2 linked regions of the Homo sapiens genome follow. The protein of the gene in region 1 interacts with the protein of each later gene in a pairwise test. Each region holds a gene or a part of one and is shown in the gene's direction. Other genes may lie near its edges.

Region 1 (3,753 bases):
ACGATTTCAAGTTTTTAGCAATCAAGAAAGGTTGAGAATGCAACATATATTTATATGAGGGTAAATATTTTTACCTCTTGATAATTTTTGAAGTTTATTCAAGTATTTGACTAAGTTAAAAGTTACAGTAATTCTTTACATGCATTCAAGTTTACTCTTCAGTAGATAACTTCTGCATTTTTTGACTGAGACTTAAAATTGCTATTTTGTGGATTTGGTTGTTATTAAAATACAACTATAATTATTTTTTAAATATTTAGTGTTCATTAATTTTGTTCATACAAATAGCTGACTTTTCTATAGTTGATCCTACATTTCGCTGATTAATATGGTTCAGAGCATACATTGCTCAGTGAAAAAGAGAAATGGCCCTTGTGGAGATGGTCCTGTAGTTTTAAAGAAAGACTTAATGATCCAGGATCTGAAGATAGCTTACTGTGGTGCTGCTGGGATGTTTATAAGCAAATAAGTTGATGTCCTTGTGTTGGAGACCACCACAGAGTTCCCTGGGGACTAAAAGTCCAAATTAGTTTAAATGCATTATTGTGTCCAGACAGTATTCAGGTAGGGCAAATGAAGTACTGCGAGTTCTACTTTGAAGTGGAGTTATTGGGGGCGGAGTGGGGGGAAGTGGTTCTATTAGAAAAAAAGTGAGTTCTATTAGAAGGCAGGTTATTGAGGGAGGAAAATTTACTCTTAGCATGTCCTGACAGTGATGCCAAGCTTTTCACCATAGGGTCTGTTCCATATTAGTCAATGCGGTTTGAACACTTTTTAAGGCTCTTTGAACGCTTACTGCAGTGTTGCAGTCTAGAAAGCATGTAACAATTATATTGATTCTTACTGGTCATAATGTAAATCCCTTGACAAATTCAAGGTCATTTTGTCTCCTGATGGGTTCCTGGTTGTATGGTGTGCCATTTACAATTAGAACATGGTTAGGGCTTGCCTCACTCAACTGCTGAAGTACCAAAGAAGCTTTTATCTTGTCATTTATTAGTTCGCTTTTGCATTGTGTGTGTGTGTATTTAGCCTTAGCTATTTTTAGTCCTTGAGAAAGGCCTAAAACTTGTGCTTTTTTGTTAAGGACTCAATTTAACACTTGTATTTTAGGGTTTGACTTTTGGCTGGCAATAGGCTCTTACTAATATCAATAATGACGAGGGTTTGCCAAGTTGGCATAAATCATTTGATTCTTAAACACTTGCAGAATCATGTATCCGCGAATTGTTAAGTATTACAGAATTTAATACACTCACCCAGACAAAAAACATACACACAGGATGAAATTATTTTGTGGAGAAAAATTAACTTTTTATAATGGTAACTAAAGAGTTGGTCACATGAGAAATTTTTATCACATTGTATTATGTTATAGAAGAAATATGTGAAATGTATTTTTTCCCAGAACAACTTTTTTAAAAGTGATTTTCTTCATAAATATTTTCAGAACTATGGTTTTCACCCCAGAATTCCAGAAAGCCAGAAGACGTCTTCTGTATTTACAGGCATGTAGTTGGTTCTGTATAGATTTGAGATAGGGTCTCAGTCTGTTGCCTAGGGTGGAGTTCTGTGCCATGATCATAGCTCACTGCAACCTGAACCTCCTGGACTCAAGCAGTCCTCCCACCTTAGCCTCCTCGGTAGCTGGGACTACAAGCATGTGCCACCATGCCTGGCTAATTTCTTTTATTTTTTTGTAGAGGTGGGGTTTTACTATGTTGTCCAGGCTTGTCTCAAACTCCTGGACTCAAATAATCCTCCTTGGCCTTTTTAAGTGCTGGGATTACGGATGTGAGCCACCATGCCTGGCCTATTCTGTATAGTTTATAGAGCATTTCCACATCCTTACATAATTTATTCCCTACAACCCTGTGTTATGTAGACTAAGTAATATGCAAGTTATAAAAGGAATACAAGCTTGGGGGTGTTAAAACCTTTCCAGTTACTTTAGCCACTCAGGTTTGATTGCTAGGTCTGCCAGTTACCTCTAAATTCATCGCTTCTTTAACTACAAGAAACTGACTTTCTAGAATATTAAATGCCGGTTATGCTTATTCAAGTTTCACCTGTTAACCTTATGTATGTCGTTGTTTGCTTCAGTTCTAGTTGCTGATTATTTTTCTAAATGTCCTGAAGAATGTATTTCAGCAACATCATCAAACCACATGTGGTTTCTTATTCCTTTGCTAGTTGTCAGTCTTTTCAACTGACAAAAGGAAACATTTTGGTTTTTGACTTGTAAATTATTCTGAAATACCCTCTTGGTAGATTGCTATTATGTTTTTAAATCCCTGAGGTTTCCTGTTAGTATTTTGGGAAGTCTACTACTTAGTAAATATGAAATCAGAAAATGAAAGTGTTAATATTAAGTAAAATAGTTAATGCAGCAAAAGCCTATGATTTTTAAAGCTATTTGATTTATAAAATTAAGTGTTTTTAAAATAAAATAGGGATAAATATAAATCTTTTCATTTTTTGTATGTGCCCATAGGCATTTCTCCCACATGTGTTTTTTTAAGATGGAACTTTAGTGCTAGTGCTGTTTCCTTCTCTCATGAGTAGGTCTTAACCTTACCGTCAAGGACTGTCCTAAATGCTATTATTTTTCAGTAAAGCTTTTCTTGACTTTGCTATGGAAGTAAACCTTTTTAAATTTCACAGTGTGTCTTTGGTGCCACTCACACTTTCTATCCATGTCTAATCATCCCTTACAAATGGTAAAAGCAGACTCTGTTTGATTCATCTTCTGTATCAATTGCTTGCATATACAGACATCTTCAACTTAATATCAGTAACCTGTTCCTGAAAATCATGTCCTGAGTTAAAATACTAATGAGGAATCCCCATTTCCCATTGTTTAAAAAAAAATTATATGTAACATGTATTTCCCAAGTCCTTAACTAATTTTCTAAAACATATGTAATATATAGTAAAACATGCACGTATACCAAACAAGCTATCATATTAGTATGTAAATGCTTTAAACATTTTCCGTCAATAAAGAATTATAGTTCTTAACAGTTGCTTTGTATGTAGTAACGTATTACATGTCATCCCGTTGAGACCATGCACTTACCGAAATATTTACATTTGATTCTGCTGATCTGTCCATTCTTACTGGATTATAACTTGAGTTTTTTTCCATGTGGCATTTTGTTTAAAATGTTGAGTTGAATTTTGGTGATATAAATAACGAAGTTTTCATTTGTAAATATTGCCCAAAAACATTGAAATATACACTTGTGGAAATTTGAATACTAATTATAAGGGCTGTTTTATCAGACGTTTTGTAAGGCACGTTATATTGCTTCATCAGTATTTTTCTTTTTATGCTGTCCATTAATTTGATTAAGCAAAATGTAATGCGGTTGAGTGATAACCTGAAGTAATAGCTTTGTTGAGAAAGAAGTTGCTGTTGTGGTGTAAACAAAATTTTGGTTCCTTAAATATTAATTTACCTTTTTAAAGCATTGGCCATTGAAGATCAAATGATATTTCTAGTTTATTTGCTGGCTTGAAATTCCTTGTGTCAGTGAAAGTTAGTGGCTGATCTTTAACAGTCCTGTTAATTTTATTTGATATGTAATATAATTTATATACTCTATTTCTTAACAGGTAGTTGTGTCAACTAACATAGCAGAGACGTCTTTGACAATAGATGGTGTGGTGTTTGTGATTGATCCTGGATTTGCGAAACAGAAGGTACATATTTAGTGGATACTTTATAAATTAGAGTTGGTTTAACAGTAC
Region 2 (3,753 bases), on another chromosome or scaffold:
GGTGGTTTTTCAATGTACAGGTGATCTGAATTTCCCTTTTTTCCCCTCCTCTTACCCCGTATAGGCAGAAGACACACATTTGGCCGTAAGTGTGAATTGCCATTGATGAGTTTCAAAGTCAGTTATCATGCCTTGAGGCAGTACTCTGTAGACTTTGATTAAAGTTTTTGTAGTAGAACTGAAACTTCATTTCACAAATTAATTGGAACCAGTGAAACGCTGAAGATCTGAATATTTTACCTAAAATTAGGGTAGCCTTTAAAAAATAGTATGTACACAAATGGTGGCATGCTAAATACATTGTTCTGCATTTAACAGTGGCTCTATAGTTAGAGATATTAGAAACTTGATTTGTGCATGTTCGTAGCCCTATAAATCTGCGGGGATGAGAGAGAATGGGAAGATGTTAATTAAGCATTTGTTGGTGGGCTATGCTGTTATATAAAATAACATTATAGGCTTTGTACTTTTGTACTTCTCATACCTAAAGTAGCATCTTAGGTTTTATACTACTGGACATTTAAGGTGTCTTGAAAAAGAAAGTTTTAATGAGGTAGAATGTATATTCTATAAAACAACCTTTTTTAAGTGTACAGTTGAATGACAGTGTATTTACAGAGTTGTGTAACCACCGCCACAGTCTTCCTTCAGAACGTTCCATTACCCCACAGAAACCTCCGGCTCATTTGCATCATTAAAGTGCTTTTTAACTGATGTATAAATATATATTAGTCTTTGTAATAGCATTGCAATTTGTATGGCCTTGGGCTGAGTATAATTTCATTTTATTTTTATTTTTTGAGACAGAATCTTGCTCTTTTGCCCGGGTGGGAGCACAGTGGTGGGAGCGCAGTGGTGCGATCTCGGCTCACTGCAACCTCCACCTCCCAGGTTCAAGTGATTCTCCTGCCTCAGCCTCCCAGGTAGCTGGGACAACAGGCATGTGCTAACATGGCCGGCTAATTTTTGTATTTTTAGTAGAGACGGGGTTTTACTGTGTAGGCCAGGCTGGCCTCGAACTCCTGACGTCAAATGATCGCCCTCCTCGGCCTCCCAAAGTGCTGGGATTACAGGTGTGAGCCACCACGCCCGACCATGAGTATAATTTTAAATAGAAGTTGGAAGTAAGTCACTCAGTTTCTGGCTCATAGGAAAGTTTCCATGATGTTCGAAGGGAACCTGTAAGCTCTGAGATTTCAGTCACTTTCTGCAGAAGGTAGAGTTACATTTTTTTGTTTTCTTGAGACGGAGTCTTGCTCTGTCACCAGGCTGGAGTGCAGTGGTGCAATCTTGGCTGGCTGCAACCTCTGACTCAGTGGTTCAAGCGATTCTCCTGCCTCAGCCTCCTGAGTAGCTGGTATTTCAGGGACGCACCACCACGCCCAGCTAATTTTTTGTATTTTTAGTAGAGACGGAGTTTCACCATGTTGGCCAGGATGTTCTCGATCTCCAGGATGGCCTCCATCTGTCCGCCTCGGCGTCCCAAGGTGCTGGGAATACAGGCGTGAGCCACCGCGCCTGGCCAGAGTTAATTACTTTTAGAGCTGTCTGCTTCCACCGTGTAACTGTCTACAAAACAAATCTCAAAGTACTATATTTCTATAATTCCCTGTTTAGCTTGATTTAATATTAAGTGGAATTTGAGCGTAATCTAAATTATGCATAGATATATTAATAATGATGACCAATAGAATTATAGTAAAAAGTTGCGTTCAGAGGGTATGCTGACTTTTCAAGGTTAGTACAGAATCTTGTTAGTTGGTTTCATTGTGGAGATTTGTAATTGAAAAAACGATAATTGTCTTAATATTAGGCCACCCTGTTAATTTAAAAATACATAGTTCCAGATAATTTAAAATGGTTGTTTTGCATATTTAAAAAGATAATTTTCATTAAAATGCTAAGTAATGAAGATTTAACTGGATGTCAAAATAAATGATCACAACAGCTTTTATTTTCATTCACAGATAGTTGCAAAACGTGGAGGGGAAGGAAGGCTGGGATTTTCTACTCTATCTTGCTGATGGTGATCACAGTTATTAAAAAGTCAACTTAGGCCGGGCGCCGTGGCTCATGCCTGTAATCCCAGCACTTTGTGGGGCTGAGGTGCGTGGATCACGAGGTCAGGAGTTCGAGACCAGCCTGGCCAACATAGAGAAACCCCGTCTCTACTAAAAATACAAAAATTAGCCAGGTGTGGTGGCACGCGCCTGTAGTCCCAGCTACTTGGGAAGCTGAGGTGGGAGAATCGCTTGAACCGGGGAGGCAGAGGTTGCAGTGAGCCGAGATCATGCCATTGCACTCCAGCCTGGGTGACAGAGTGAGACTCTGTCTCCAAAAAAAAAAAAAAAAAAAAAAGTCAATTTAAATGCATATATTTCTTGTAAAGTTTTGTGTTTTGTATTAGAAGAGCAACACATAATTACGAAAAATATGAAAGCAGAAAAGCACATCTTACCTATCTAGAGAGATACTGTCAAGGCCCTGGCTTTAAATACTTCCAGAAAACATTATTTTTCCGTATTTTTACTTTTATGTACCTGTTATTTTCTATGTCAGATATTTGTGTGCCTTCTGTAAGATAATAGTTTAAGATGAGAGCCTGTTCTTTACTAGATTATGTATTAAGCTTCTATATGTATTTCCTGATTTTCTTTTCCCAAGAACTCTGTGAGGTTGGTTTTATTTTTTTAATTTTTATTTTTTAGTAGAGATGGGGTCTTGCTATTTAGATCAGGCTGGTCTCAAACTCCTGGTCTCAAGCAATACTCCCATCTGGGCCTCCCAGAGTGCTGGGATTACAGGCATGAACCACTGAGTCTGGCCAGCATTAGGGATTTTTCAAAGTAACTTTTAGGATAGTGAGCTTACATTTTCATTAGGAGGAAAAGGGCAGATACTTTGCTGGATTATCACTCTGGATAAGTTCTCTATCACAGTGTTTAAGGTTGTCAAATTAGCTTTTTTGTAGTGGGAAGAGCAATATGCATTCATTCCATGATTGACCCCTAATTCTTGTAATAGTTTTTAACTGGCAGGATCATCCAGGTAAACACCTTGGTTTTTTCATATGCAGTATGAAGCAGTTGTATTTCCTTTAACCTATTTATAAGTTGTGAAATCTTTGCTAGTTTCTGTTGATGGCAGTCCCATCTACCTCTAGCAACTGTAACTAATTTTCATTGAGTACCCAGACTACTTACCAGACTTTGTAGGTGCCTTACTCGAATTTCCCATTTAATCCTTTCAACCACAGTGAAGTAGATAACTCCACTATTTGAGAATACTGAGGCTAAGTGAATCCAGGTCTGTAAAGTTAGATGCTGATTCAAGATTCAGACTCTAAAGTTTGACACCACAGAACCAATTTCTTTAACCATTATGGTGCAATATTTTTTGAAGTACAAATGTTTTGCCACATTATTACTAATTTTGAATTGTTACTAATATGAGGAGAATTATGAGGAATAAATTGGGAGGTTCCCAGAGAAATGATTTGAGCTATGCCTTTGCTTTAGACAAATCTGCTTTCTAATATAGTAGCCACCAGCCATGGAGCTGAAATGTACTAGTCTGAATTGAGACATGCTTTAAATGTAAAATACAAATTGGGTTTCAAAGCCTTAGAATTAAAAAAAAATGTGAAACACCTAAATTTTATTTTTTTTTTATTTTTGTTTTTTTTTTTTTTGAGCCAGAGTCTTGCTCTGTTGCCCAGGCTGGAGTGCAGTGGCACTATCTCGGGTCATTGCA

What was found. Proteins that work in one complex are often made in the same cells at the same time.
Region 2: the proteins of DHX15 (region 1) and FXR1 interact in binary tests that used the Homo sapiens proteins (3 or more experiments, as listed by UniProt).

Annotation. Positions count from the first base shown.
Region 1 is NC_000004.12:24,542,892-24,546,644, reverse strand, and holds part of DHX15 (ATP-dependent RNA helicase DHX15), read left to right. Parts: intron 1-3,618; coding exon 3,619-3,705; intron 3,706-3,753.
Region 2 is NC_000003.12:180,915,612-180,919,364, forward strand, and holds part of FXR1 (RNA-binding protein FXR1), read left to right. Parts: intron 1-3,753. UniProt on the Homo sapiens protein: mRNA-binding protein that acts as a regulator of mRNAs translation and/or stability, and which is required for various processes, such as neurogenesis, muscle development and spermatogenesis.